Homo sapiens: one gene and its partners. The protein of the gene in region 4 purifies or fractionates together with the protein of the main gene of each other region. This does not show direct contact. Each region holds a gene or a part of one and is shown on either strand. Other genes may lie near its edges. The genes, in order: PDLIM5, ZBTB20, TTC1 and SYT11.

Region 1 (8,067 bases), on a different chromosome or scaffold from region 4:
TCTAGTTTATTAAAAATCATTTTACCAAGGGAACAATCCAAGTCAGGATTACCTTCTCATTCAGTAAAAGTAACAAACGATCTCCAGTTTATTTTCAAGGCAGTCGCCTTAAAGGGCAAATCAATATCATATTCTAAAGTGGAACATTTCTGATGTTTACAAAATTCACTACTGGACTACAAGAAGTGGACTTAAGGTACATGATTTAGTAGAATTTATATCCACAAATCATTGGGAATTCAAGCAAAATATTTTTCCTACTAAGTAATGCTTACATTCTCAATTCTAATAATAAAGTTGGGAATATCTGTTTTGACAAAGTCACATTAAAAAGTCTATATAGGGCCAGGCGCAGTGGCTCATGCCTGTAATCCCGGCACTTTGGGAGGTGGATCACCTGACGTCGGGAGTTCGAGACCAGCCGGGCCAACATGACGAAACCCTGTCTCTACTAAAAATACAAAATGAGCCGAGCATGGTGGCACATGCCTGTATTCCCAGCTATTCGGGAGGCTGAGGCAGGAGAATCGCCTGAACCTGGGAGGCAGAGGCTGCAGTGAGCCGAGATTGGGCCATTGCACTGCAGTCTGGGCAACAAGGGTGAGACTCCGTCTCAAAAGAAAAAAAAAAATCTACATAGTTTTTTCTACATGCTTAGAGCAGCATTAAATGCTTCCAAAACAATTAAGAAAATAACTTTGCCTAATATTTTCTTGAGCTTTATAGTAATATAAGGGTTAATGTTTTACCTTTATTCAAAATTCAAGAAACAAATGGCTCCCTGATCTTACCAGTCTCACAGTAGGGTTCACCATCCTCCAAGTGAAAAACATTGTTCCGAATGGGCTTTCCACAGGCTACACACACAAAACAGGAAACATGCCAAGTTTGTTTCAACGCACTGATGACTTCCTGTTACAGAAAGGTAATTGGATGTAAAAAAAGAAGATGACAATAAATACATAAATGTTTATTCTAATATCTGTACCAGTAAATCCCTGTAGAGCTAATCCAAAGTAGGCACACATACTTCATTTTTGTCTTGAGCTTTCCCTCAAAGTAACAAGAGATACTTAAGAACAGACTCACAAATCATCTAAACGGATGCATATTTAGACGTGTGTTCTTTACAAATGCCAATCAATAAACTTAAAGAATGATCACTATGTTATTTATACATTATATGTACAGTGAATAAAGTAAGCATTTCATAAATGCTTGCTACAAAACTTTCTGCTTCTTCTCAAAGGGTGTCAGGAAACATTAACTTACCAAGGTTTTATGGTATTATCTGCAAAAGTTCTGGGGGAAGGAGGAAGCATTTAAAAATTAAAACAAACCTATACTTTGGTGCATTTTAGAAGCAATAATATAATATATATAATTTAATAACAAAACATAATGGGGCCGGGCGCAGTGGCTCACACCTGTAATCCCAGCACTTTGGGAGGCCGAGGCGGGCGGATCACGAGTTCAGGAGATCGAGACCATCCTGGCTAACACGGTGAAACCCCGTCTCTACTGAAAATACAAAAAATTAGCTGGGCGTGGTGGTGGGTGCCTGTAGTCCCAGCTACTTGGGAGGCTGAGGCAGGAGAATGGCATAAACTCGTGAGGTGGAACTTGCAATGAGCCGATATCGCGCCACTGCACTCCAGCCTGGGTGACACAGCAAGACTCCGTCTCAAAAAAATAAATAAATAAATAAAAATAATAAAATATACATAATTATATATAGTTGTATATATTACATGTATATAATGTATATAAATGTATATAATGTAATAAAATATAATAAAAATATAATGTAATCCAATCAGTTTAACACGTGTTTAGGCTTTTGGAAATCAGCTAAGATGGCACTAAGCACAGACTCGAATGTGTAAAATTTGGACCATATTCTAGTCAGCAATGGCCCAATGGTTAAACATACCAAGTTATAAAGATTTGGGCCAGATATTAGTTAGTAAAAGAGGTTTTGGGTGTTGGTTTTACAAGAAATCATTTCTTTGGATTGAGAGAAAGATGGAGCCATTAAAATAATTTTGGATGAGTAGTGAATACTCTTTCTATAATATTTATCACAAAAAATCATATACATAAAGCATGATTACAATTTTGTAAACACATTACTTATAAAGAGCAAACTAGAAAAAAACACATCATAAGGTTAACAGTAATTATCTGTGATTGGTAAATATTTAGGTCATTTAAATTTATTCTTTAAATTTTTTGTGTTTTCTAATTGTGCTTGAGTGAACTATTTTCTTTTATAAAAAATATCAAAATAAAATGAAATAATATAGACTTATTAGCCATAGAAATTGTCACAGTTCACTACTGAAGGACAATGGGAAGAAACAGACATTTAGATCCAAAAAATTCACCATGAACATTTGTAGAAGATGTATATTGAATCAAACTATCTCCCAAGGCTTCCAGAATATTCTTCCCTTTCCATCCTTGAGAGAAATCTTTAACAGGTAATCAAATAACTAAAATACAATCTAGACAAGCTATTGAAGTTCTGGCCCATCTCCAAGGCAATGAGTATGAGATTTCCATTTCCCAGAACTTTATTTGGGTCTAAGACTCTAACTTCACTTTGTTTTGTTATTCTAACATTTATAGAATACCTTGATACACTAAAACAGTATTAATGAATATTCTATTAATTATTTGTTATCATTTGGGAAGGTACAGTCTGAACCATTCCACTTCTTTGTTCCCAACATATTACACAAATCAATAATCTAGAAATATTTCAGGTGACATATATATAATTTTAAGTGTCTTCAACGTTTCAGACATATTTAAGGATATCCTAAGAGATATCTTAAGACTACTCAATAATTCATACTACCTATTCTCTCAATTAACAATAATTAGAGTTTCATTATCATATTTTCACATTGAGAGTATATTAGAGTTCAGCAGGGCCATGTCCAATTTTTGTGTGAAGCCAGGTACTCTGGCTTCTTCTGAAATCAGATTCCAGCTCCTAGTCACCATAAAGTATGCCTGACCCTTACTTTATCATTGGAAACTAGGTATTCCAGAGCAAGAAATTCATGTATTCATTATTTATTATGTACTGTATCTGATTCCTAAATTACTCCTTTTTTTGCAAAAAAGGAAAAAAAATTATTTTTCCATCACATGTGCACTCTCATAAAACTGAGGTTATATTTTTAAACACTGTATGTATTCAAGAAAAATATATCATTTATAAACCTCATGTTTTATATATTTCATGAAATCAGTGTCCTGTGCTTGAACTCTGACAAGTAGGGAAATACTGCTCTTATAAAAGCTATGGAATTTAATTTAAAACAGTGAAGGTGTCAGTTCTAAGAACTCAGATGTGTGTGGTCCTATGCGACCTCTTCATTCCTGAGCAAACAGGCTCCTGTTGAGGAAGCACACCCACAGTAAATTATTTTTTCCCCACAGTGGCTAGACTTTCACCAGACAAGCCAGCACTCAGTGAGACAAAACCAAAGACAACCTAACCCCATGAGTCCGATATATTTCCACAGAGGTCTATTTAGTTTTGCTTTACAATAATAAATAGTGCCGAAAGCAGAGAGGGCATAAAGCAAGAAGAAAATAAAAAGTTAAAGTGATAGAAGACTTTCATATCAAAAAATTATTCTACTTTAAAACTCATTCAGAATAAAAACGTTTCCAATACTTACTCCAAGGATCTTCCTTTGGCATCGACCACATTCAGGGGCAAAGAATTTCTCATAGCACAGCTCACAATACAGGGCTCCTTTCTCCTCTACAAATCCAATGTAGGCCATTGTATTTTTGCAGTGAGCGCAGTTGAATTCTTCTGGGTGCCAAGATTTCCCCAGTGCCACTAAGAATGGTCCTCTGACAGAAGAAAAAGAGGCCAACTAAGTTTGAGAATAAAATTTCTAGAGTTAGCCTGGATATGGACCTCTTTTATGCAATGTCCAACCAATTAAATACTTGCTCAATTTTCCTTCTTAAGGACTGAACTCATGGGTGTTGGGTGTTGTAAATTCACAGAGGGACTCTGCATTGATGTGAAAAGAAAACGGGAGACGTGCACTTAAGGGATTCCTTCAAGAAAGGGCACTCCCCACCCTTTTTCTGCCTAAGGGAATTTGGTGATGTTTTATTGAGCTGAAATGAGGCAATCTGTCTGCATCATGGGTAGGATTGAGAATGAGGATGTTAACTGTGACTGTGACAGAACATGAGGCAACCAGAAAAAAATATATGGTTTAGGCAGAGATGAGACTTTGACACTTCTACAAAAGAAACAAACAAAAACTTCAATTTGGTAAGTCATAGTGCTAAAAATAGTAATAACTATTACCTGAGACAATTTCTCTTCCCCACAATTTCTCTTCCCCACACATTCTTTCATGTATTTATTTCTCAACTTTACTAAACACATCAAGTCCTCACCCTCCAAAATGACTACAGGAACTGTAAACTAGGTATTATCAATTGTCTGAAACTACTCAGAAAGGTTTCATTTCACTCAAATATGACTGATTTATTTCAAAAATTTAATTTTATTGTGGTAAGAACCCTTAAAATGAGATCCACTCTCTTAACAGATTTTTAAGAGTACAATGTAGTATTGTTAATTATGGGCACAATGTTGTACAGCAGATCTCTAGAACTTATTCATCTTGTATAACTGAAATTTTATACCCACTGTGCACCAACTTCCCTCTCCCCCCTCCCCAACATGACCGATTTTTAACACACATTTGTATCAAGGTAACAAATGTTTGTAAGAGATTTTTTTCCCCATTAAATACTTTATGGTCATGAACTGATAAGATGGGCTTGGTTTGCTTGGCAGGAATCCATTATGAAGCCTTATCTAGTCATGAAGCCTGCAGAGACTAACCATTCTAGCCTCTGCAACATACTTTTCAGTAGCTATATCACACTAATTTATATTCATAGAGCAGCTTTACCTCCAAGGCACTTTTACACTTATCTAATTTGTCCATGCAACATTCCTGTGAGACAGACCAGGACAGTTATTATGAATTCAGTTTAACAGATGGAGAAGCCAAGGTACAGAATGTTCAAAAGATATGACAAATATCATAAAATCACTGACCCAGCCAAGGCCAGAAGTTGAATTTCCTGATTTCTAGTATGCCGCTCTAGTCAACTGATATTCTGCCTTTGACCTCATTAACATCACTTATCATCCCTAAGCGACCACATGGTAATTGTTGGTAAGCATCAGACACCAGACTTCCAGGCAGATTATTAACAGGAGAAGTCATAGCAATGAGTATCGCAAAGTCACAGCATTTTTAAAATTCTGACAATAACATAAACCTTGCTATTCAATAACTATCTCCCACTGTAAATTCTTTGTCACCATATTGATGTTTACTCAGAATCAGCACCTAATTCTGCAAGAGTCACAAAAGGAGAAAGGCTCTTGATGAGTGATTAAAAATTTTTACGTGGGGTGTAAGAGGGTATTTTCTAGCCCTACTTTTTGTTAACTTGTTTCTTATTAATAACATGATGCCATTTTGTATAAGCTAGTACATATCATTCTCTTAAGTTTGAGATAGGCAGTTTATTATTATTATTTTTAAAACTTTAGGGTACCATAATTTTGTTATGACTAATAAGGAATGCCTTTGTTTACTAATTCCTGCCAGAAAAGAAAGGCTACAGATCACCTATTCTGTAATCGAATATATTACTTTTGGTAAGTGGTCCATCATTTTCAACTGACTTATAAAATAACAATCCTATTCAACGAGTTCCTTCATCTAATTTTCTCAGTGTATGTTTGGCAAGTAGTTTATCAGCAAAGATAAACCAGGAATCACACTGCTCAAAGCCAGACAAAGTTTGATGAGTGCCCTGTGTTTTTCCGCCAGGTGGGCAACTGGTTATACACGCATGAAAAATCTTCCAGGCTCAATTTACTGTGACCATAACACAGAGCATGGTAGAGCTTTGGGGTTTCATGCTACTCTCTGGCTGCACATTAAAACAGATTCAAAGCCATTTACTAGGGTGAGTTTTTTACTAGGGCACATCTTTAGCTCATCCATAAGGCTGGAGGACTCTTGAGGCTAGTATTCTTATTTGGCTTCTCAGTTTTCAAAGAAGTCAATCCAACTTCAAACTGCATTCTGTTAAAGCATAAGTGTTGGTATGTACCTGGAACAAAATGAAAAGCTCTGCTCCTGGAACATGTCTATCAATGCTATCAAATATTTGACAAAGTTCATCTGAGAAGAAAAAAAGACATTTAAGAATAACTGACCAAGGAAAATACATTCCATTTGCCAGATTTTCTAAAATATGTATTGAGTTCAAGTCAGATCATCAGAAAACTGGGTTCTGTGAATCACAGCATATTGGGCCTGCTGCACCCCGCAGGATTATTCCTTTTATGAACGGTGCTTGTTGTGATACATGAACCTGTACTGGTAGTTGTTACAGGACACAGCTCTATGAAATTCACCCTTGCTCTTCCTGCAAGTTGTTGCTGGAGTGTTGTTAGATCTCATCCAGCGTCACTTTCACATGGTCTCATTCAGAAAAATTCCTCCCTGATTTCTGCAGCAAGAACTATTATGCTTTTCCTCAGCAGTAGTCTTATTTTTATCTTATTGTAAATTGCAAAACTACCTTTCATTTTTGGTAGACTACTAGAAGGCCTAAAGCCAGATTTACAGTCTAACCAGAGGCAAGTGGGCAGGTCATTATTTTAGTATCGTCCAGTCTCGACGTTAGCTTCATTTTTAACGAGCCTATCGATGAATTTCATTCTTTTTCCCCTTTTGTAATTTATAAGATTATCTTATATTTCACATACCTGTAAAAGTCTTTTTACAAACTTGCTGGAATATAGTTCACTATAAATACATAAATTAAAACTACAGTCCATTAAAAGGATGACTTTAAAATATTTCATTAGTTCCTTTCAAATAGCAAAAGGAATTTTAGACAGTAAAGAAATTCCCACTGCACCTTTAAAAAACAAGCTGAAAATGACCCTTGCTCCTCTCAGATCTCCTTTCTTAAACAAGCATGCTCAGGGCAACTACTGGCCTAACTTGATACTTCTTGGCTGTCCTGAAAGAGCATCTTTCTCCATCAATGCCCTTGAAATTATGCACAGATTAAACAATAAAATTAATCTTTCACATATAGCAAAGTGTTTTCTTCTCTGTGTCAGCAAAGACTAATTTAACAAATTCATTAACACAGGATTAACACTAAAGAAGTTCTTCTTGTTCCAGGTAGGATTGGGTTTCCATTTGTGAACAGGAATGACAGGCCTAGATAACTGCAGAGTGGAATTAAGTATTCAGCTATCTCTTCTAGTATTCGATGTCCTGTGAGCCCTTACTAAGTACATGTTGACTGACAAATGGAGGGAGAGGAGGGATTTAAAGCATTTGGTTGGCTGTGAGAGAAGAGCTACGGCATGAAACTTTTCACCCTGTTTATCTTCTGTGAGACCTATCCAAAAAGGCGGGGCATGTGGGGGGAAGAAAGGAAAGGTAGGGAAGGATGCCAAGGAAGAGTTCAGAGAAAAAGGAAAGCTTACAAATACAAAGGTGAAAGGAACTCAGATTTCAACAGGCACAACCTAACTGGGATTTAGCCTCAAAATCTGATGCTTATTTTTTGCTGCTCTTTGTTATTTAATTCTCACAATAATCCCAATGACAGAAATTAACTTTTTCATATACGTGTAGATGAAGAAAACGTCAGAGAAATCAGCCAACTTTCCTAAGATCATATGGATGACGAACTAACTGTAATACTGGAATTTTTCAAAGCCCAACCACAACAGATTTTATTCGACTGAAAATTACTGTATCAATAGAAGTAAAAAACAAGTTTCCCAAAGCTATAAAAAAACTGACGTGCTCAAGAATAAAAACAGAATCTGATATTCTACTTAGTTAAATATACTAATACAAATGTACAAACCACTTTTATGTTTTTGTATTTGCCAACATTGAGGAAGGGCCTGGCGTGAGCAAAGGGCAAAAGAACAACACAGCCACAGGAATAGAGTGA
Region 2 (8,067 bases), on a different chromosome or scaffold from region 4:
CTGGCATTGGTCCCCACCCCTGCCACCTCCAGGAGACCTGGGGAGACGCCCTGGACTGCTGCTCCCTCTTGTCTGCTCACCAGTTGAAGACTTCTGTTATACCTTATTATGGAGGAAAACAGCCTGTCCCTGTGGGTTTGCTGTGGATTCAACAAGCTGCATTTGTTTCTCCCAATTCTGAAACATTACAAAAAGCAACAGAGTGGGCAGGTGACTGCTTCCTGGGAAGGGAGCCACAAGTCTTAAACACAATGGTGGGAAGAGGCAACTGTATCTATGCACGAGGACCTCTGCCTGTGTGTGCTTCCTTTGGGGGGCACACACACTTCCAGATGACAATAAGTATATACACAAACACACACATGTGCACACATGTCAATAAATCCAATAGAACTGTAGAGTTTGTTAAATGCACTCTACTCCACATAAGCATATTCAAGTTTCTCATGAAACGGATACATAGAAATTACTGATGGTTGGGCTCCTTCAGAATGCCCTAAAGTCTCATCACAGATACTGATGCACCCAACTAAGGCAACAAAGCATAAGCAGATACGTGAGATATGTCAGACCTTCGACTTCTAACCAGAAGTTCAAAAATGTATCTTGTTGTCACTGGGCAATATGAATGTGAAACAGTTTTGTGCTGAGGGAAGCTCACACTGTGTGTGCACATGTATAAATAATGTATACTCATTTATAGACATTTTGGACAGCAGCGGTGACATACTGGATGGGTTAAGACTCTTTCATTATTAGAATCTACATATAAATTGCAATGAGTTTGCTGGGTAAAAACAACTGTTGCAACACTAGTAGAAACAGATGCCCCCAAGGTTTTTTTTTTTTTTTTTTTTTTTTTCTCTCTTGGATGTATCAAAATCTCATTGAGGCATTCTAAACCAAAGAAACCTCTGAATTTGAAACAGGGTTAGTAGGGACTTTTATACCCAGCTGGGCATCCCAGAAGCCTGGACTCTCAGGACTGTGGCTAGATTTTGCCCATGATCTGTAGATTATGCTCTTGCACCGGAGACTTGAAAGTTATGAGTTTGCATTCAAACAAAGAACCACCAGATAAAACAGATGTTCTCTAAAACTGAGGAAAAAAAGTTTAGAGATATACACTGTATAGAGAAAGAAAGCTTTTTGCTGGATTGTTCTCCTTGTTAAGGAAATGTTTAAAACTAGTACTCCCGGGCACCTGTGATTGCATTTTATAGGATTCTATTTAGTAATATGATGTCTATTTTACATTCAGCCCCAACCTACGTCACTGAAATAGAATAGGAAATAGCAGCCACTATCTGAGAGTACCCAGTTCTAGGAAAGTTTGGTGCCTCCTCAAGAAGTCACTATTTCCATAGTCCTCAATCATGAATAGGGCTTGTTTTTGTGATAATGTAACTATTAAACAGCAAGAAATGCCTATAACTTCAGAGCCTTCTCATTTCTATATCTTTTATCCTCTTCCCAGGGCTTTCTGATTTAAGGCAATAATGCTACACTATAAGTAGCCTTTTGTGAAAATACCTTAATTGAGGTCACTTAAGATTAGATTTCAGTCTGAAAGTCTACAGTTTACGGAGCAAAAGGTGGAGCCTAAAGAAACCACTGGCAGGTGTTTTAGTCAGTGGTGTGGAAAGATAATGTTTCTTGTTTCAACCCAGGGCATTTTTACCCATCATGCAGTGAGGAGAAAATACATAGTTCTGAAAAAGAACCCACACTAGGTAGCCCTAATTTTCTATCTCTTCACTCTAAAAAGGATGGAAACAAGCCCTACTGTTCCATAACCATTCCCAGGGATCGGCTAAGGTACATTGCTGACTGCTATAGACTCAGTGTTCAAGGAGAAAAAAATCTTCAGAGACTTAGAAAACTCTTTGCAATATTTTGGTCAGGCTGATCGTCTTGATACTCAGTGCTAGAAATGATGCTTTGGATTAGTAGTTTCCACATTCTGAATTTATAGGAACACTGAGTCACCACAGCCTTTTTTCTTGTAAAGGTTTAAGTGATATCAGAAATAGCAACTCTACACGGAAAGCCCTTGGGAATATGAAAATACTCTCTCTCAAGAGCAAGGGCTCTTCCGTGCCCCTTTTCTGCCTCTGTATGTAGCCTGAGCACCAGGGTAGAGATTGCTTTTGAAAGTTTGCCCCATGTAATCTATTTCCTGGCTACCTAAGAGAACAGCCGTTTTCTTCATGAAAACACAAAGAGGGGAAAGAGGCTGCTGCTGTTCCAGTGGGAAGTTATGTCTAGCCCCAGAAGGCCTGGTGGCTGGGTCAGCTCAAGCACTCTCTTCATGCACTGCAGGCTCAGGAGGCATTGGGTTGCTTTGCTTTTTCTATGGAATTAGGGAGCCTATTGAAATTCTAGTGCACCCCTCCTTTTGTTTGTCACCAAGTCACATGGTTCTGTCTTCAGTATCCTATTTTTCTTTTTTTTTAATTTCTTTTTCTGAGGAACAAAATTGGCCATTTAAATAAAGTTCTTTTCTAGTGAGTAAAGAGGTTTCTCAGAGCCAGAAATCACTGAAAAGAGAGTCTGTCGACCCTGCCCATGGAAAAGCCCAGAGATTTCTCTAACCACTTCTTGCCAAACTTCCTAGTTTTGTGATTGGATGTTTCTTGGTTTAGCATTGTTTGGTGCTGAATACATTTTGCAATTCTTTTGTTCTCTGCCCTAGAGCTTCCATTACCCTGGACTTCAACTCATTACCAAATTAAAGAATTCTTTTAGAAGATTTCTTTTAAGAGTCAGGTCACAACAGAAAGGGCGCCCTCCTGTTCTCCTAAATCTCAAGGGCATCTCAGGTTGTGTCTGCTCTTACGTTGCACCTTCCTTTTGTTCCCTTTTAATGCAGCAGCACACTGGCTATAGCAGAGGCAGACCTGATTTGATTATCTGATACCTTTTCCACAAAATCATATATCCCCTGCTCCCAGCCCCAACTAATCAAATAACATCTTCTAGAACAACAGAGGAAAGCTCCAGAATGGGTGTATATCCTGTGACTCCTGGCCAGATCCACCTTGCTCCCTGTCTTCCTAGGGGTCACAGGTGTTGGGAGCATTGTGGAGGAGCCCCAACAAGGAAGCAACATATGGCTTTATTATGTTTTCTCAGGAATCGAAGGGGTTTTATAAGGGGCATATCTCATTTTTGACTTCTGTGCTGAGAGAAAATATTGAGTTTTGGGCGCAGGCAGAGCACAGACAGGACAGCTGGTGTTCCTGTGTGAGGGAAGTACACATAGCTCAAGGCTTTAGGACTGAATGTGAAACAAACATACCTGGAGGAAAACTTTTTTCATTATCAGAATTCACAAATTCTTACTGTTCATGGGTTGAAAAAGAGTATTTGGGACCTTATAGAATATTTTGATGATACAAAATAAAACCCTTATGACTTTTAAACACAGCAAACCCAAGTCTTTCTAAGGCCAAGAGCTACTATGATCTCTAAGATGACTAGGAATGAACTGAGGCTAGAATATGAGCAGGAAATTATCCAGCACACTTAATCATGGCACAAATAGATTCAAAGCATTAGGAATTTGGGAAGAGAACGGTCTATAAAACTGTTATTAGGAGCTAAAGTTTACCTCTCAATTAAAAGATACAGGAAACCATTTTGATACAGAGATTTTCATTTCAGATTTTTTTTCTTTGCTTAGCTTGTTTCCCCCTGTGTAGAATTGTAACAGATCCATGTGTTCCAATTATTTTCTTTTTTAGGATTATATTTCACACATTTGGGGGCCTTTTTTGTACAAATATTGGCATGTAATAAGGAAAAATTGCCCATGATGCTGAGATAATACCAGTGTTTTTAGTGGTAGAAAATATTATTTTTTTATAAACCATATCTAAATATCTTGAGATAAAAATTCCCCTTTGACTTTTTTTCCTCTCCCTTGTTTGGCAAATTCCATTTTAAAATTATAAATTGCTAAAAAATGTCCTTTCCATACTATTTCTCTCTTCCTTGTACTCATCCTAAGAAGTCTTAAATCTGGAACATTTGCTTTTATCTTATCTATCTGTTTCCTGGCTACTAGAAAGAAATTTTTTTAGCACTCATATCACCCTACCATGAAGGTCTAAATGTAAGATGACTGTAGGACTTGAAACAAAAAAAAATTAAAAAGATCCACACTCATTCTTTGATTTTGAAGCAAATGTCTTTCCCTATTTCTAAAGATATTTGTGATTGTTTAACTTAAAAGTGAGAATTGACAATCTAAAAGCATCTCTATCCTTTTGAAACAGGTCCAGATTGGTTTATTTCCTAAAATGTGGGTCAGTTTGGAAAGTGGCCATTTGATGGGCCAGGAACATAGCAATAAACAACTACCTCTTTGCTCCTCCAGATTAGATCTCCCACTCCAATCCAGCTTCTTCCTCTTTCCACAAAATAATTTGTCAACTATTTTAGAATGTGACATATTTGGGAAGGATAAATGTACAGTAGGAATATGTCTACTGCTATGCAAACCTGGCTGGTCCATTTTGTCATGGACTACAATGATTATATCACCTCATTAAGAATTCTTTAGGGATCCTCCACCTCCTCCCCCACTCCCTTTTTTTTAAGAGACACTTCCTTTACAGGGAAAGGATGATAGACTCCTCAGGGTTTCAAGTCACCTGCAGCTTTTTCTCTACATGTTCTACCAAAAGAAAAGGTGGATTCTAACCCAATTGCTTAGCATTTTACATGGCAAATCAGCATTAAGGCAAATGGGTCTCTCTCAGATTTGAGAAACAGAAAGCTACACGTGGCCCATAATGGCACCTAAGATCAACTTTTCAGGCGGTATTAGTGAAAATTCTTCCTACTTTGCTAAATTTGAACAAAGACACTTTCAAATCTACTGTGAAACAGTTTAAAATATTTTAAAGTGGCTTTTGGCCTTCTTTCATTTGTAACATGTATTGAGTGATTTCATGTCATTGTCTCCTAGCTTTAAGAGTTTTTTTCTTAAGGTCAATCTTCTCTTTTCATTTTATGGGTGGAATCACTTGTTTTCCAAAATATCAAAACAATTCCATGACATAGTTAATTAATGCTCCCTCTATTGGTGGTAAGTGGAAATATTAGTCTTACAACACTGCTATTTTAAAAAGCAAAATTAGCAATAGAAAAATGAACTTACTTTATCTCGGAAGCTGTTCCTCACTAACTGTTAAAACAGATCAGTTTTGGACATACAGTTCTTGGCAGGACTCCTCTTAGAAATCACAATAGGTTACACTTAATAGTCAGTTAACCACCCAAGTTTACATTAAAACTTCTAGCAAAATATCCACTGAATTAAGCACTGTGGGACCAAATCAAACTCACAAACACTTCAGTTACACTAACCTTACAAAGCATCACAAAGAACTTATGAAAAAGATCCAAGTTAACCAAATGTCTAAAATATATGAATAAAACCAATTTAGTCATTACAGAGTTGTTTGTGTTGGAAGATTTTCCCTCGTTTGCTGCACAGTTTTTGTAAATAAAATGCTGACAGGAAAATTAGAAGGAAAATTAAATTAAAATGTAATGTAATTTTGAAACTAAAATACGCTCTCCTTTCTTCTTTTTAAAACTGTAGTTTGGTGTTTTGCTTTGTTTAAAGATTTGCTTTCCCCTAAGTATGTTAAAATATGCCCAGCAATGAAATCACTTTGGGAGTTTCAGCTAGGTTTAAGAATTCCTATATTTGAGCTGGAATCCCTTCAGGACACTGTCTATAATGAAAATGTCTCTATTATAACACCTTGATCAGGACCGAGGAGAGAAATCCCTACTAGGAAGAGAGAGTGGCATCTGGTATGATGCAATAGATTGGTGGTCTTTTGAATGGTGGCTGTTGGCATCTGGGAATTTTTTTGTTAATTTCCCTAAAACCTTTCGAAGAAGCAAGGGTTAATTCGTCATCTAAAGAATGATCATCTTATTCAGCCCTCTTAACCATGGTGGAAACAGTCAGAAGGTGATATTTGGAAGGAAAAAAGTAATTTTGGCATCAATGCATCTTGATCTATAACAGGCTTCTCATAATGATGCTCTTTGTAGTTGGGAAGGGTGAGGAGCTATGGCAGAGTTTTGTGAACTCCTCTTCCTGGCTGATCACAAAAGAAAAGACCCCATTTATCAAGACTTCTAGACTATTAGTGTTTCACTAAGAAAAAAAGTAAAGTCAATAGAAATTCTAGAATTGTAAGATCTCAATGAAATTTTGGAGAAGCAAGCAATCTCTTTCTGAAAGATAAAGTCTCTTCCATGAAAAAGAACAGAATTCTAGATGAATCAGTTGAAAAAATTATTCAGTGGGGCAACTTAAGCTTGCTAAAGTCAAAGAACTACATATCAAAATACAAAGCAGCAATTCAAATTACAGCAGGGATGGGCTGGCCACAGAGGCCCTCATCAACCCAGGCAATACTTAAAATAATAAAAATTAAGAAAAATTAAAAAAAATATGAAGAAAATATCCTTCCTCTCTTTCAAATATAACTTTAGTTGCCTTTTATTCTTTCTATCTGGAAGCAGTATCGCTAACCTTAACAGTCTTGACTTACCAAAAAATATATATATGTGTGTGAAATAAAATAAAAGAGAAGGAATTGGTGGCAGTGTATGCAAAACCAAAATGAAAAAAATTACTTTTAACAATTTCACTTTTTTTGTTTTTTTTTTTACACAAATACTGTTGTAAATATATTAAAAAAATCAGCATTCTATCTGGTAAACGTCACTTTTGCCCCTCTATAAAATTTTGAATTAAAAAAGCCTCAAGAACTTTTTATTGTTCCCCCCACCCTCCATTTCTTTTTCTTTTTCTCTTCCACAAGAATATATCCTGACACTTTTTTTTTTTTTGCAAAGATTGTTGGAAATAATCCTTCTCTTGTACCTAGAAACATAGGTGCAAATTTCTGATATCTTTGTTTTATCTGCATTCCTGCCTTTCATGAAAGTCCCTCTTGATTGTGCTGAGGCTGTGGCTCAGCGAAGACACTGAATAAATACGATAGCCACTGTTGCTTGTTGCTTGTCCAAGTCTTCCTGGCTTCTGCTGCAAGAGGGGGATATGGAGAAGGTGGGCCAGGGTGTGTGGACCCGGGCAGAATCTGGGGAAGAAGCCTGCCATTCGTCTTTCTTTCCCACACCACCGAACCCACTGCCCTTCCCACCCCCACAGCCCTTTTATGAAATCAGACAACGTGGTAGGTGGAAAACAGCAGGGCCTTTCCTCTGGGTTTTCAACCAGAAGTGATATTCCACAGTTTTAACTGGTTACTGTGAAGTCCAAGCGGCCAGAATTGTGAAAATGTCCACTGAAACACTGCAAGCGGTGTACTTAAAGACAGTAGGCCTTTTAGATTTTGTTATATATTTTTTGTAGTGCTCTTCACAAGTGGAAATTTTTTTTTTTTTTTTACTTTTTTTTAAAAGATTTTTTTGTAAAGAAGGGTTGTATTTAGAGGCCAGTAGCTAGAGATCCAACCAGTGGACCTCTTGAAGCACTACCAGGCCTTAAGGCCACCATCCGAGGGAGACTGGGAAAACTATTATTCACCCAAGCCTCCGGAAATGTAATGTACCAGCAGGCAAAAAACAGTTCTTCATGTAGTACAAAATGAAACGAAACAAAAACAAAAACAGAAAGTAAAAATGAAACCAAAACATTTCTTAAATTCTAGTGCCATAGCTTTTTTGTTTGTTTGTTTTTTGTTGTTGTTTTGTTTTGTTCATAAGAAAGAGAGAAAGATACTACTTATCCGTCAGACACATGCATCCTCATGTGGTCGTTGAACTGCTCGATTTGGTCAAACTTTGCTGGGCAGACGGAGCAGACGTAAGTGGTCCCCTCCGTGCAGGCCACCACGCCTGGGGGGCCAGCGCGGGCACCTGGGGGTGTGCCTGCAGGGGGGGTCCCATTGCTGGCACTGTGCAGGGCCACGTGTCGCTCCAGGAGGGTCTTGTGAGAGAACTTCTTTTTGCAGATGTAGCACTCGTAGGACTTCTCTCCCCGGTGGAGGCGCATGTGCACGTTGAGGG
Region 3 (8,067 bases), on a different chromosome or scaffold from region 4:
TACTTTTTTTTTTTCTATATTGTGGTTTCACATGAGATTTTTCTTTTCTTTTTTCTTTCTTTTTTTGTTTTTGAGACAGGGTCTTGGCTCTGTTGCCCAGGCTGGTACCATCGTAACACTGCAAACTTGACCTCCTGGACTAAGGCAATCCACCTCAGCCTCCCAAGTAGCTGGGACCACAGTCTTGTGCTACCACGCCTGGCTAATTTTTAAAGATTTTGCAGAGATGGGGGTCTTGCCATGTTGCCCAGGCTGGTCTCGAACTGCTGGGCTCAAGCAATCCTCCCACCTTGGCCTCCCAAAATGTTAGGATTACAGGCATGAGCTACTGTACCCAGCCAACTTTTTTCCCAGCTATTTAAGAAAACTGTGAAATCATTCCATTAGAGAGAAAGCAAATAAAGCATCAATGACTAGCTCCTCAAAAATGCTCTGAGCCTCCTGGGATGCTATGTCCAGGGTCTCTATTTCCATCTCATCACACTATCAACCACACATACCCTTAAGTCCTTTTAAACCTTACATTCCTTGGTTATTATGGCTGGGAGGCTAATTATCCCAGAGAAAAGGACCAAACAAACAAACAAACAAACAAAAACAACCAACCCCCACTCCAGCTGCTGACCACTTTCCTCAAGTGATCGTCTTGATGCTATCACGATCATCTTCTGTGATCAGCAAGGACTGTGCCACTAGGACTAATGGCCACCCTGGGTCTCTTGTTCTAAAGATTATAAATGATGGGCTAGAAAGGGCAAAGCAAATAATTGTTCTACCCACTAATAATTCCTATCAGGATTTTTTCCCTCAAGGAGTACATAGCTCTTCTTTCTAATGAAAAGGAAATTACAGAGATGGAAGAAAAAACAAGTTAAAGAATACTGAACACATCTAAATAAAAACCCATTTTGTACTACTCAAGGTGATCCACAGATTCAATGTAATCCCTGTCAAAACACCAATGACATTCTTCACAGAAATAGAAAAATCCTAAAATTTGTATGGAACCACAAAAGACTCTGAAAGCTAAAGTGATCCTGAATAAAAAGAACAAAAGCTACAGGCATAGGCATCACACTACCTGATTTTATAATTTTCTTTTTTTTTAAAGACAAGGTCTCACTCTGTCACCCAGGCTTGAGTGCAGTGGCATCATTGTGGCTCACTGAAGTCTCGATCTCCTGGGCTCAAGTGATCCTCCCACAGCAGCCTCCTAAGTAGCTGGGACTACAGGTGCACACCAGCACACCTGGCTAATTTTTTTAGTGACAGGATTTTGCCATGTTGCCCAGGCTGGTCTTGAACTCGGGCTCAGCCTCCCAAATTGCTGGGATTACAGGTGTGAGCCACCACACCCAGCCCACACTACCCAATTTAAAAAATTTTTAACTGCTTATTCTCCATAGAAGCCATCATTTTAACAGGAACTAGCATAAAGATGATGCAGTCCACTGTGAAAAGCTTGCTCAGAACTTCTAAGTGATATTAATTTGCATTCAGAATGTCTAGCCTCTAGGGAATCTCACAGAACATGAACCAAAGTTACCTCATCAGCAACAAGGAGGAAGGAATACCAGAAAAGCTCTTGTGGGGGCTGAAATTCCATGTAAAGAGTGATTTCTCTCTTCTAGGTTATCTATTGTGGGGTAACACCTAGAGCAGTATCTTATTCATGATTTTTATACTCATTAAGGGAAAAAAGGAATCTAGCCATTCAAACTACACATGTGTAACAACACATATTATTTACAAAGCAACTTAAGTTGGTTAAGTCTAATGGCAGGTGAATTCATTTTAGAAGCAACCGAGGGAATGAATTCAATTTGAATTTTTTCAAATGAAGAGAATGACATAAGAAAAACCCAAAGCCTTGGAGACAGAAAATTCTGGTGCATTAGAATTTATAAAGACAAGGACAAATGGAAGTTTTAATTCCATCTGGAACTAACAATAGGCAGTAAGATTCAGTTTGCACCAGTCCCTTTACTGGACTGGCTTTAAAAAAATGGACTAAGAGACCAATGCCTTCCAGATCCACTATGGCCATTCACAAGGTCATCTTTTTTAGCAAGAAATTCAAATACTAAATGCAAACAGTTTTTTTTTTTTTTTTTTTTTTTTTTGCTAAAATAGAGCATCATTGTTAGTAAAAATAGGTGAGAAAATGCTCTTTTCCCTCTTCTTTGAGACAGGGTCATGCTCTGTTGCCCAGTCTGGAGTGTGGTGGCACCATCATAGCTCACTGCAGCCTCTAACCCTTGGGCTCAAGTGATCCTCCCATGTAGCTGGGACTATGGGCAGGCACATGCCACCATGCCTGACTAATTTTTTGTGGAGATGGGGTTTCACCATGTTGCCTAGGCTGGCCTTGAACTCCTGGGCTCAAGCAATCCTCCTACCTTGGCCTCCTAAAGTGCTGGGATTACAGGAGCCACCGTGCCTGGCCAAGTTTAATTAAATATGTAAATTAGGGGAAAAGCTCCCCCATCCCCCTCCCTTTTTTGGAAAATCTGGGGAAGGCTCCAGAGCTATCCTGAATCGGAAGCAGCCGTCTTTACAGTCTGAGTCTACCCGGCAGGGGCCAAAGTCTCTGGATAGTCTAGGTTAATGGCCTCCTCTCAATCAACTTGGCTATCAGAATGATCCTTTGGGAAATTTGTTCCCATTGTCTGGATGCTGATGTCTGAAGGCCATAAATGCCAGACAGGCTCAATTTATTTTAAATGATTTTTCCTTTAGGGCCACATGATTGCAGTTTATAAAATGTAATTCAAACAACAGATTTAGAAAATACTCAAAAAGGAAAATACATGGCAGATCTTCACCAGCGAAATATCAGACAGGTTACATGTGGAAAAGACTTAAGTCTGTGTTCAGGAACCCTCACTCCTCTTACTTAAGCAGATTGCTCGTGGGAGGTTCCAACTCTAAAATGCTTTGGCAAATATGAGAAATAACTAAACATGGATCAAATGAATCCATTTGCCCTACCCCTACCCCCAGTCTGATTTCTCTTTACTCCTAATTCCTGCCCTCTCGTGTGTTCTCAAACACTAAAGGGACTTTGAGTGCCATTTTCTAAATAAAAATTCTCATGATCTTGACTGCATCCTAATGAACCTCAAGGAATGATTATTCAATGAAGAAACTAAACTGTTTTTATGTAATTGTTATCTGAAATCGAGGTTGGTGGTATCCTAGGATTTTAAATCCCATTTAAGCATAATCCCAGGGAACTGAATTATGCTTAAATTCTTGCAGGCAAGAAAAATTTCCAAGAAAATCAAAAAGGAAATCTGGTTTCCAAAAAAAGCCAATACCCTCTCTAAGCCACGCTGCCCCTTCTGGGGTCAAAATAACTCAGAAGTCAGTAGCCTTGTGGTAGAGTCCGAAACTTTCTAACTCATGTGTTCTCCTCTAGTATTCGCTATGTCCCCACCCTAGGTTCCTAGCTGTTTATGATCAAGCAAAGTAAGAAGTAAGCTTACCTAACATCTCTTCTTTTAGTCTTTCATTACGTTCTTCAATTTGCTTAGGTAATCTCTGAGGAAAAGAGGAGAAACAAGGGTTGGTAAAAAAAAAAAAAAAACCAAAACCTTTCCCTTTATTTTGAATTTGAGAAACACAAGAATCCTAATGTGGAAATAAGATCAAGTTAAGTATGTCTATGATCCTATTAAATAAAAAAAAAAAACCCCAAGTATTTATGTTTGTGGTGCGCTACATAAAGACAAAAGTTCTGTTTGGGCCAGGTGCAGTGACTCCTGCCCATATTCCCAGCACTTTTGGAGGCCGAGTTGGGAGGATCGCTTGAGCTCAGGAGTTTGAGACCACCTTGGGCAACATGGCAAAATGCTGTCTCTACAAGAAATACAAAAATTAGCTGGGTGTGTTGGCATGTGTCTGTAGTCGCAGCTACTCAGGAGGCTGAGGTGGGAGGGTTGCTTGAATCTGGGAGGTTGAGGGTGCAGTATGCCATGACTGTGCCACTGCTCTCCAGCCTGGGAGTCAGAGACCCTTTCTCAAAAAAAAAAAAAAAAAAAAGTTTTGTTTGGCTCTGTTTCCAGTTCTTAATAGAAAGTCTACACTAAAGGAGGGCATCAATACAAATTTAACAAATAAATATATACAGAAAAAAGTTTGAAAGGATACATATCAGATGTTTACAGTGCTATATTTGTATTTTTAACTTTTTTTTAAATTCATTTGTATTTTTTGTTTTTTTAAGACAGAGTCTCACACTGTCGCCCAGACTGGAGTGCAGTGGCGCAATCTCAGCTCACTGCAACCTCCACCTCCTGGGTTCAAGCGATTCTCCTGCCTCAGCCTCTCGAGTAGCTGGGATTACAGGCATGTGCCACCACACCCAGCTAATTTTGTATTTTTAGTAGAGACAGGGTTTCTCCATGTTGGTCAGGCTGGTCTCGAACTCCCGACCTCAGGTGATCCGCCCTCCTCGGCCTCCCAAAGTGCTGGGAGTACAGGCGTGAGCCACTGCACCCAGCCTGTTGGTTTGTTTTTAAGATACAAAGTCTTACTCTGTTGCCCATGATGGAATGCAGTGATGTAGTCACAGCTCACTGCAGCCTCCAACTCCTGGGCTCAATGATCCTCTCTGTTGCCCAGGCTGCAGTGTAGTGGCATGATCTCAGCTCACTGCAACCTCTGCCTTCTGGGTTCAAGCAATTCTCCTGCCTCCCGAGTAGCTAGGATTACAGATGTGTACGACCACACCCGGCTAATTTTTTGTATTTTTAGAAGAGATGGGGTTTTGTTGTGTTGGCCAGGCTGGTCTCGAGCTCCTGGCCTCAAGTGATCTCTCCTCCTTGGCCTCCTAAAGTGCTGGGATTACAGGCAAGAGCCACTGCGCCTGGCCTCCCATATATCTTGATAAGCTCCTCAAAAGCACAGAAATGGAATTTAATTGTGTCTGAAAGGATTATTTAGGACTCACTGGGTAGCAACACAAAGAATAGAAGGAAAAATATTTTTAAAATTTTAGGTTTTACCATACAAGCTTCTCTTGCTTGATGTATTGATGGATCTTTTTCTAATATAGATTTATAGTCTTCCAGGGCTTCATCTAGCTTGTCCGTCTTCTCATACAACTCTGCTCTCCTCAATATTGCCCTGATATAGCTGGGGTTTAATTGAATTGCTGTAAAAAGAGAAGAAATAATTTTTATCACAAAGAAAAATGGCCTACATATCTTTGGCTATATCAGATTCCTTCATCAATCATCCTCCAAGGATACGAAAGGAAGAGTCATTTGCCAAGTGTATACCTGATGCTGGAAAACTTTTTCTATAAAGAGCAAGATAGTAAAGATTGTAGGCTTTGTGGGTCAGACAGACCATCTGTGTCGCAGCTCCTCAATGATACTATTGTAGCACGAGAGCAGGCACAGATAATATGTAAACAAAAAAGGATAGGTGTGTTCCAATAAACTATTTATGGACACTAAAATTTAAGTTCACATAATTTTCACATTATCATGAAATATTTTGCTTTCCAATGATTTAAAACTGTAAAAACCATTCTTAGCTTTTAGGCTATCAAAAACAGGTGGCAGGCTGGATTTGGCTTGTGGCTGTAGTTTGCCATATCCTGGTCTATACTCCAAGTCCTGGTTTTTGCCTACTTGTCATTTACCCAGTCCAGGACAGGCCAGAACAGAGTTCAAGTGCGCAGTGAAAGAGTGAGAGAGAATTTTTTTTTTTTAGACGGAGTCTCGCTCTGTCACCCAGGCTGGAGTGCAGTGGTGTGATCTTGGCTCACTACAACCACCTCCTCCCAGGTTCAAGCGATTCTCCTACCTCAGCCTCCCACGTAGCTGGGATTACAGGCATGCGCCACCATGCCCGGCTAATTTTTGTATTTTTAGTAGAGATGGGGTTTCATTATGTTGGCCAGGCTAGGTGAGAGAGAATTTGAAGATACAAATTAAAGAGTTAAGGGAAACCAATCTGGTGGCAGACTATCATTCTCTTTTTTCTAGGTCTTGAGTACTAAGATTATATTTCTAGTTAAATCCTCACTGTTCCTTCAACCCTCAAACTACTGCTCCAGCACTATGAGGTGGTTGATGCATAATATCTTTTCCTTTATCCAGCATCAGCTGCCCTTCTAATAATCCTTTGCTATGTTTTGGTTCAACATACTGCATTTCTTCTAATTTCTTCCAAGTTGTTTCTTTTTCTATTAGAAAGCAGTGCTGGCCGGGTGTGGTGGCTCAGGCCCATAATCCCAGCACTTTGGGAGGCCGAGGCAGGCAGGTCAATTGGGGTCAGGACTTTGAGACCGTCAGCCTAGCCAACATGGCGAAACCCCATCACTACTAAAAATACAAAAATTAGCTGGGCGTGGCAGTGTGGGTCTATAATCCCAGCTATTTGGGTGGTTTAGGCATAAGAATCACTTGAACCCAGGAGGCGGAGGTTGCGTGCAGTGAGTGGCGATTGCATCACTGTACTCCAGCCCGGGCAACAGAGAGATAATACTCTGTCCCAAAAAAAAAAAAAAAAAAAAAAAAAAAAAAAAAAAAGCAATGTCTTGGCTCTAGAACTTTTTTCTTTTCTCATAATCTATCCTTAATTTTTAAATTCATGCTTTCTGTGAACATTTATTTAGTACTTAATATATACGTCCAATGTAGTATGTCTCTGGGCTATAGTGGGAAACAAGACAGACACAGTCCTTGTTCTCATGAAGCCTTATGCTATTCTAGTAGGCAAGAACAGACAGGTATATAATTTCAATAGCCATAGTACTATAATGAAAAATAAAACAAGGTCATGGAAATACAAGTGAAGCGAGAAATGAGGTAACTTCAGAAAGTGGTCTCAGAATATGAAGAGGGACTATGTGAGAGAGGCCAGCCATGTGAAAGGCTAAGGAGGAGCGTGCCAGGAAGAGGGACCAACAAGAATAACTCTGGCATGTGAGTTATCAGGCTGGGGATCAGAGGCTGAAATGTAGGGCCATGGAGGACCTTCCTGGCCAGGGAAAGGAGTTTGGACTTTTTCCTCAGTGTGATGAGAAGCCACTGGAAAGTTTTCAAGCAAGCTTCAGACATACTCTGATTTACATTTTTGAAGGACTGCTTTGGCTGTAGTGTTGGCGGGTGGGGCAAGACTGAAAGCTGTGAGATCAGCTGGAAAGCTAATGCAGTGGTCCAGATGAGAGAAGATGTTGGCTTGGTCTAAGCTGGAAGTAGTAGAGATGGAAAACAGCAGCCGGATTACATTAAATATGTCTTTAAATTTGAGCCCATGGAACTTGCTAATTAATCAATTAGCCATGTGACACGAAAGAACAATCAGGGATGACTCCAAAGGTTTAACTTAAGCAAGGGGACAGATGGTAATGTCATTTATTAGAATGGAAAAAACTAACTGCAAGTTTTGTGTGTGTGTGGGGGCTGGGCACGTTAAATCTGAGGTGCCTACCAGACATCCAAGAAGAAAGAACTTTGCAGTGGGATACAGGACACTAGACTACAGGGTAGAAGTCAGAGTTGAAGACAGAAACTCTGCCATACACATGGCATGTATTTATTAGTTTTATATTTTAAAATTCATGAATTTTGGCTTTTATCTTTATGAAAATACTCCTTTTGTTTCCCTTAATTGCATTTTTGTTGCTCCAATTTCTTTTTTTTAGACGGAATCTTGCTCTGTCACCCAGGCTGGAGTGTAATGGCGTGATCTCGGCTCACTGCAACCTCCACCTCCCAGGTTCAAGTGATTCTCCTGCCTCAGCCTCCTGAGTAGCTGGGATTACAGGCACGTGCCGCCATGCCCTGCTAATTTTTGTACTTTTAGTAGAGACAGGGTTTCACCATAATGATCAGGCTGGTCTCAAACTCCTGACCTCATGATCCACCAGCCTCAGCCTCCCAAAGTGTTGGGATTACAGGCGTGAGCCACTGTGCCCGGCCTGTTGCTCTAATTTCTTAGGTTAAAAAATCCGTGCATTTTCCTTCTGTCTTAATTTAACTTTTAAAATGACAAATAAAAATTGTGTATATTTATGGTATATAACATAAACATAAATATAACATAACA
Region 4 (7,009 bases):
GAAAAGAGAGAAGATGAAGAATTCTCATATTCCAGGAGGATAGAGAAGGAAAAGAAGAGAAACAGATGAACGCATCTTTGAATTATCTAGTTGTTCCCCCTGGCCTTGTTTCCTATTTTTGCTGTTCTTTCTTCATTTTAGTATTTGTTAACTCTTGCCTCTCTCCCTGAAACCAAGACAATGAGCTAGAATCATCAAAGATATTAAAACCTAGAGCTCTCTGTCTTGCTTTAGTCCAAAGCTTGGTGGGAAATGGAAGTTGAAACTAATGGCTGAAGTGAGTGTTTTAAAGTAGCTATAAATTGCAGTGACCTGTGCTTCTCGCTCCTTTTGTCCTTCATGGTCATGGATAATTGAGTGTTGGCTTGGTGTATCACCCAAGTGCTGTGGCATTTGAAATGAAGTACTCTATGAGATGTGAAAAAGTTGGAAGTGGTAGTTCTCTATGTAGGAGATCCTCTGTAATGGTTTAAAGACCTGCAAGACACATCTGGGCTATTGGCCAGCTCCTTCAGCTTCTGACCAGAACTGCTTTTATTGACACCCCCTTTCCTAAACATAGCTTTTCGCAGTCAAGTAGACAAATATAATACAATGGAATGAGAATAAATTTTGGCTTCAGCCAGACATTGGTTTAAATCCTAGCATTGGCCAGGTGCAGTGGCTCACACCTGTAATCCCAGGACTTTGGGAGGCCAAGGTAGGCAGATCACCTGAGGTCGGGAGTTCAAGACCAGCCTGACCAACATGGAGAAACCCCATCTCTACTAAAAATACAAAATTAGCTGGGTGTGGTGGCACTTGTCTGTAATCCCAGCTACTTGGGAGGCTGAGGCAGGATAATCGCTTGAACCCAGGAGGCAGAGGTTGTGGTGGGCCAAGATCACGCCATTGCACTCCAACCTGGGCAACAAGATCGAAACTCCGTCTCAAAAACAAAAACAAAAACAAACTAGTGCTACCTTTAGTCATTTGTTTGGCTTTAGCCAAGTTATTTTATTTCTGAGCTTTGGTTTCCTTGTCTGGCAAGTATATATAATAATACATACACTCGAGGGTATTTGTTAGGATTAAATAAAATGTAGTATGTAACAGGCTGATATAATTTATTTTCCCTTTCCCAATAATAGTCCCTCTAAGAGAAATCACTATATTATGTTCCACACCATCTCCTTTTTTCAAGGATTCTGGAACTGCAGTTAGAGAAAGGAATCTGTTGGAAGGGAATAAGAAGAAAAAGAACAGGAAGAAATCATGGATTGCTCATGTGATCATGAAAGGGACTTTTGTTTTGGAAACTTAGAACTCAAAGAATAAAGATGCGGAAGGTGAAGTGGAAGAAAAAATACCATCAAGATTTAGCCTTGTGGAATAAGTGAGAACAAGTAGTTAATGAGTGTGAAGATCAGTTATCTGAACACATCTGATTTGATTTCTTCTTCCTTATTCTGAGGGGATAGAGCACACTGGATTCTGCTCATTTCACTGTACCTCTTATTCAGGAATGAGAAAAGCCATTTCCTAGCTGGATTGTGTCTCCACCCTAAAAACTGGAGTCCCGATGCTCAAACCTACTGGATTGTCTGAGGGATAGAATCCCTGAAGGAATAAGAAGGTTCTTTGGCAGCAACTCTCACTGGCTTCCCCCATCTAAACTGAATCAAGGAGAAGCAGGGCAATTATATTTTATTTATTTGATCAGGAAAGCATAACACAGGAAGTTTGCTCCTTTAGCATATACTGCAGGAGTCCCCAAAGAGGAAAAAACTTCCTTCTCAAGCTTGTCTTTGCCACCTTCTTCCCTATTTTCCACTCCACTTTCTGCTCCAGAGAGTGTAAAACTAATCTTGGAGCCCACAGGGCTGGGTCGGGGACCAGCCGCTCTGAAATGACGTAATGCTTTCTGCGGTACACAAAGCGGCCTCCCCCGGGCTGGGCCTCTTTCGCCCCTCCCCCTCCGGCCTGGATCGCGCCCCCGCCAGCATCAACGCTGGTCAGTCCCCCTTTTTGAAAAGGCGGCCCAGGGAAACAGGGAACAAAGGCCCCGGAAGGAGAGCGTCGGCGCTGCCAGGAGGCCCAGAAATAGACATCACGTCATCCCCCAGCCCAGCAGCGCCAAGCGCCATTTGGTAGCATCGGAGGGACCCCACCATTACGATGCGGAATGGAGCTTGCAGGGCTCACGTTTCCTCCTAGCCCCAGCATCCAGCTGACCGGCTTAAGGAGTGGCTTCCTTTTTGCTCCCCACCCCGCACCCCTCTTTCCCCAGAGGCCGCCGCCTCCCCTGGCTGCCAGCCACACGGCCCACAGTCTCCAAGCTGCCATCTTGATGCCCCATCCCCCTTGTCACTTCCCTCCCCCGCAGCCCTTAGGAATGGGAGGGGGAGGAAGGGGCACCGCCCTGTGTGCCCCAAGGGGGAGGGCTTGGCCTACCCCACCTCTCCTCCCCCAGAAGGAGGGGTTCACATCCTCCGCACGCTTGCTGTTTCTCACCTCCAGCAGTGCTGACAGTGCACCATACAAGGTTTTAGCATCCTGGACTTCCCCACCCTCGGTGTGGCTCAGGCCCTGCCAGTCCCTGCAGCCCATAGCTCAAGTTCATGCACTGTCAACTGCCCACTACCCACTACCCACCACCACAGGCCCGATTTTAGTGGGGCTGGCATTTTGAAGGCTCTGGTCTGGGCTGCATTCTCTGCCCTGCCGCTGGGCCCCCTTGGCCTTGCAACCATTCTGACCACCTCAAGCTTAGTTTTCCCGAGTCTACTTACCAAAGCTAGGTCGGATATTGGTGATCTCAGCCATGTCGTAATCAGAGGCTGTTGCTATAACGTTTTTGCAATGGTGAGACAGCTCTGGGAACCCTCGGTCAGTACCGAGGCAGCAGCTGTAGAGCTCTAGGTCAGGGAAGGGGGAAGGTATCCAGCGGACGCCTCCTGCGACGGTCCGGCCCCTAGTTGTCAGCTGCGCTCAGCTCTTAAGATGCTCCGGGGATGCGCTGAGCTAAGGATGCAGGTGCAGTCAGACTGGTCCTGATGAGAGGTAGGCTCCGCCTTCTTCCGAATGGTCCTCGGAAGAAGACTCCGCCTCTTCCGAATGGTCCTCGGAAGAAGACTCCGCCTCTTCCGAAAGATTACGGAAGTCAGCCCTCGCCCCCTTCAGGAAGCTCTCCCGGAGGGGACTCCTCCCACCGCCGAGTTTTCCCGAGAATGAGGCCGCGCCCACTGACGCGCTGTGGTTCCAAAACGAGAAAGTACTGAAGGGTAAGAAGCATAGGTAGATTATTATATGAAATCCTCTGATTTCAGTTTTCTGGGCTTTAATACAGCAGCAAAATGTTCTCGGTCCTGAGTTCCAGAATTTTGGGAAAATAAAATTCTGTACTGCCTGGATTTCAGTATCGACTGCCATCATTATGCATTTCTGAGACCGCTAAAGGTTATTACAGAACTTTTTTTTTTGGCTTATATTTCACAGTGGATGGAAACTGTCTTAAACCTCAGAAACTCTGATGAAAGACCAAACCTGGGGATGGTTGCACAACTCTGAACATTTACTAATTTTAAAAAAACAGCCGGGCACGGTGGCTCATGCCTGTAATCCCAAACCTTTGGGAGGCCAAGGCGGGCAGATCACTTGAGGTCAGGAGTTCGAGACCAGCCTGGCCAGCATGGTGAAACCCCCATCTCTACTAAAAATACAAAGATTAGCCGGGCGTGGTGGCACACGCTACTTGGGAGGCTGAGACACGAGGATCGCTTGAGCCCAGGAGGTGGAGGTTGCAGTGAACCGAGATCGCGCCACTGCACTCCAGCCTGGGCAACAGAACAAGACTCCGTCTGAAAAAAAAAAAAAAAAAAAAATTTGGTTGTACACGTAAAACAGATGGATATTGTGGTATGCAAAGCTGTTTAAAAAAAAAAAAAAAAACAACTAATGAAAAGTGCCAAAGTTAATCAGTGTTGAATTTTTTTCATGAACCTCAAGTGCTTAGGGTTTCGTATGAGAGAGGCCAAACCGAAAGATCTGTGTATTCTGTAGGTCAAAGAACAACACACATGAAACTCCGAGCTTCTGGAGTCTTCCTTGGTATTTGGGAGAGTTGGTGTGATTCAGGTTAGTCAGACTACTGCCATGTTTGCATAAATTTCAACCTTCATTTTGGCTGTGGATAATTTCATCCGTTGGATTCTGTTTACAGATAGGATTAGTTCAAATGTATAAATTTGTGTTGGTGGTTTACCTGTAAAATGAGGGGGTTGAAAGTATTTTTCCACCTTTTGACATTCTGTTTTTTATTATTTTTTTAATCTCCGTGGATTCCAGACATTGTTTTTCTAGAAAAGTGGAAATAACATCATTTTAGAAGTCATTCATTCATTCGCTCATTCAAAAAGCACGTATTGAATTATTGAACATCTGTTACACCCCAGGCAGCCTCCTGGACACTGGGTCAATGCATTATTAGCTAGAGTTAGGAGACTTAATACCTGATTCTCCTTGATAGCTGTCTGTGTACCGTTGTGAAATCACCTACTCAGATGAGCCAGAACTTTGTCCTGTGCAAACTGGAATATGATATAATAATCTTACAGTCTATTGTGGAGACCAAGTCACCTAAGAAAATGTGAGAGCATTTTGTAAAATGCAGAATATTGTACATATATGAATAATTACTATAGCCTGAGTCCAAGAGTGCCTTAGTTTTAATCAGGAGCCTGCACTATTTGTAATTTAGAGACTTCTTTTTCTGGCATTTTATGACTTCTTCAGTCCCTTGGTCCTGTGTTCCAGGTGACTCGTAGTGAGAAAAATTAGTTGTTAATCTTTTTTTTTTTTTGATACAGAGTCTCACTGTCGCTCAGGTTGGAGTGCAGTGGCACGATGCCGGCTCACTGCCACCTCCGTCTCCCGGGTTCAAGCGATTCTCCTGCCTCAGCCTCCGGAGTAGCTGGGATTACAGGCGTGCGCCACCACGCCCAGCTAATTTTGTATATTTAGTAGAGACGGGGTTTCACCATGTTAGCCAGGGTGATCTCGAACTCCCGACCTCAGGTAATCCGCCCGCCTCCGTCTCCCAAGGTGCCGGGATTACAGGCGTGAGCCACCGCGCCTGGCCCCCAAATTAGCTGTTAATCTAAACCACTGAATCTTAACCTCAGTTTTGAGTAGGATAACTCCATGGGCAGAGAAAGCTAAGTAGTGCCTTTAAATTTTTTTGCCAATAACTGACGCACTAACGTTGTGGCTTCACTCTGCCCTAAAATGGGATGGCGCATAGTGTTAGGCGCATGCTCCTTGATGCACTGCGGCGCGGCGCTCCGAGGCTCGGGGACGCGCACGCAATTCGCTGTTGTTGGCTGACTTCCGGTGGTGCCAAAGCCGTTTCCGTGGAATCAGGCCGGCTGGTGAGGGTACAGGTTTGTGTGTGGTGGGGTGGGAAGAGGCAGGTGGGAGCTGGGACACCTGGACGAACGATGTCCAGGTTGAGAAGGTCGGGTCTGAGGGTGGGCGCTGGGTGCGTGGCGGAAGTTAAGGGCGTGAAGTCCAGTGTCTAGTTGGGAATGGGGACTGGAGCCAGCCCTGGGCACCGAGGTGGAAGCGCGGTTAGGACCCCTTTTGAAAATGTTTTCCTAGGAGAGGGCCGTGCCGGGGCTGCCTCCACATTGGCATTCATTCACCCTGCTGGTCCGACTTGGGTTCCCAAAAAAGTGGATTCTGTCGAGCTACTGCTGTGTTTGAGGTGCCTGGAGCTGAAGTAGCTGTCTTTCTTTCCTTCTTTTTCTTTCTTTCTTTTTCTTTTTTTCCCCTTTTTTTGATCTCAGTAATTATCTGTGAAATAAAAGAGCTGCCCTGGCTACTCCCATTCTATTTCTTATAAGGTCACCACCATCTCTCACAGGAATCAACGAAATCTTCATGTTTTATTGAGCTTTAGTTACTGAGTTTTAATTACATCAGTTGATTGAGGGGATGGAGAATCTCCCCTAATGTCTTGGAGAAACAGAAGGGAGGTTTAAAACTAACTGTAGGTCGGGCGCGGTGGCTCACGCCTCTAATCCTAGCACTTTGGGAGGCTGGGGCGGGAGGATCGCTTGAGGCCAGGAGTTTGAGACCAGCCTGGGTAACAAATCGAGACCCCGTCTCTACAAAAAAAAAAAAAGAAAAAAAGTCGTTGAGGGTGGTGGCAAGTGCCTTGTAGTCCTAGCTACTCGGGAGGCCGAGGCCAGAGGGTCACTGGAGCCCAGGAGTCTGAGGCTGCAGTGAACTAGGATCTTGCCACTGCACTCCGGTCTGGGCAACAGAGCGAGACCTTGTCTCTGGAAAGAAAGAGAGAGAGAGAGAAAGAAAGAAAAGAAGAAAGAGAAATCTAACCTTAGACGCTTAGAGTTACAAATAACTTTTATTTTTCAGTTCTCTAGTTCAGGCTTTCATCTAGTACTCTGATAAGTGGACATTCAGGCTTCGCTTGAACATTGCCAGTGATCTAACACAAGGCGGCTTATTCTATTATTGGATCTATTTATGACAGTAAAGTTTTCCTGGGTAATAAGATGCCTTTTTTTTTTTTTTTTTTTTTTTTTTTTGACAGAGTCTCCCTCTGTTGCCCAGGGTGGAGTGCAGTGGCATGATCTTGGCCCACTGCAACCTCCACCTCCCGGGTTCAAGCGATTCTCCTGCCTCAGCCTCCCAAGAAGCTGGGACTACAGGTGCCCACCACCATGCCCGGCTAATTTTTGTATTTTTTAGTAGAGACAGCGTTTCACCATATTGACCAGGCTGGTCTCGAACTCCTGACCTTGTTATCCGCCCGCCTTGGCCTCCCAGAGTGTTGGGATTACAGGCGTGAGCCACTGCACCAAGCCACTATCAGTTTTTATATAATGCTTAACATTTGGCCCAAATGCTGCACAGAATAAGTTGTTTAACCTCTGTTTCATTTATTATTCAGGGAGCATTCATTGAGTATCTACAATATTCAGTGACACATTGAGTATCAATACTCAGT

Evidence for each region.
Region 1: the proteins of SYT11 (region 4) and PDLIM5 purify together in Homo sapiens (affinity purification with mass spectrometry; 2 studies listed by BioGRID and IntAct, with this or other methods). This does not show direct contact.
Region 2: the proteins of SYT11 (region 4) and ZBTB20 purify together in Homo sapiens (co-immunoprecipitation; 2 studies listed by BioGRID and IntAct, with this or other methods). This does not show direct contact.
Region 3: the proteins of SYT11 (region 4) and TTC1 purify together in Homo sapiens (affinity purification with mass spectrometry; 4 studies listed by BioGRID and IntAct, with this or other methods). This does not show direct contact.

Annotation. Positions count from the first base shown.
Region 1 is NC_000004.12:94,650,272-94,658,338, reverse strand, and holds part of PDLIM5 (PDZ and LIM domain protein 5), read right to left. Parts: intron 3,880-8,067; coding exon 3,699-3,879; intron 913-3,698; coding exon 792-912; intron 1-791. UniProt on the Homo sapiens protein: May play an important role in the heart development by scaffolding PKC to the Z-disk region. May play a role in the regulation of cardiomyocyte expansion. Isoforms lacking the LIM domains may negatively modulate the scaffolding activity of isoform 1.
Region 2 is NC_000003.12:114,331,222-114,339,288, forward strand, and holds part of ZBTB20 (zinc finger and BTB domain-containing protein 20), read right to left. Parts: coding exon 7,784-8,067; 3' UTR 1-7,783. UniProt on the Homo sapiens protein: May be a transcription factor that may be involved in hematopoiesis, oncogenesis, and immune responses. Plays a role in postnatal myogenesis, may be involved in the regulation of satellite cells self-renewal.
Region 3 is NC_000005.10:160,046,605-160,054,671, reverse strand, and holds part of TTC1 (tetratricopeptide repeat protein 1), read right to left. Parts: intron 5,159-8,067; coding exon 5,010-5,158; intron 3,544-5,009; coding exon 3,489-3,543; intron 1-3,488.
Region 4 is NC_000001.11:155,855,558-155,862,566, reverse strand, and holds the start of SYT11 (synaptotagmin-11), read right to left. Parts: upstream 3,001-7,009; 5' UTR 2,806-3,000; coding exon 2,772-2,805; intron 1-2,771. UniProt on the Homo sapiens protein: Synaptotagmin family member involved in vesicular and membrane trafficking which does not bind Ca(2+). Inhibits clathrin-mediated and bulk endocytosis, functions to ensure precision in vesicle retrieval.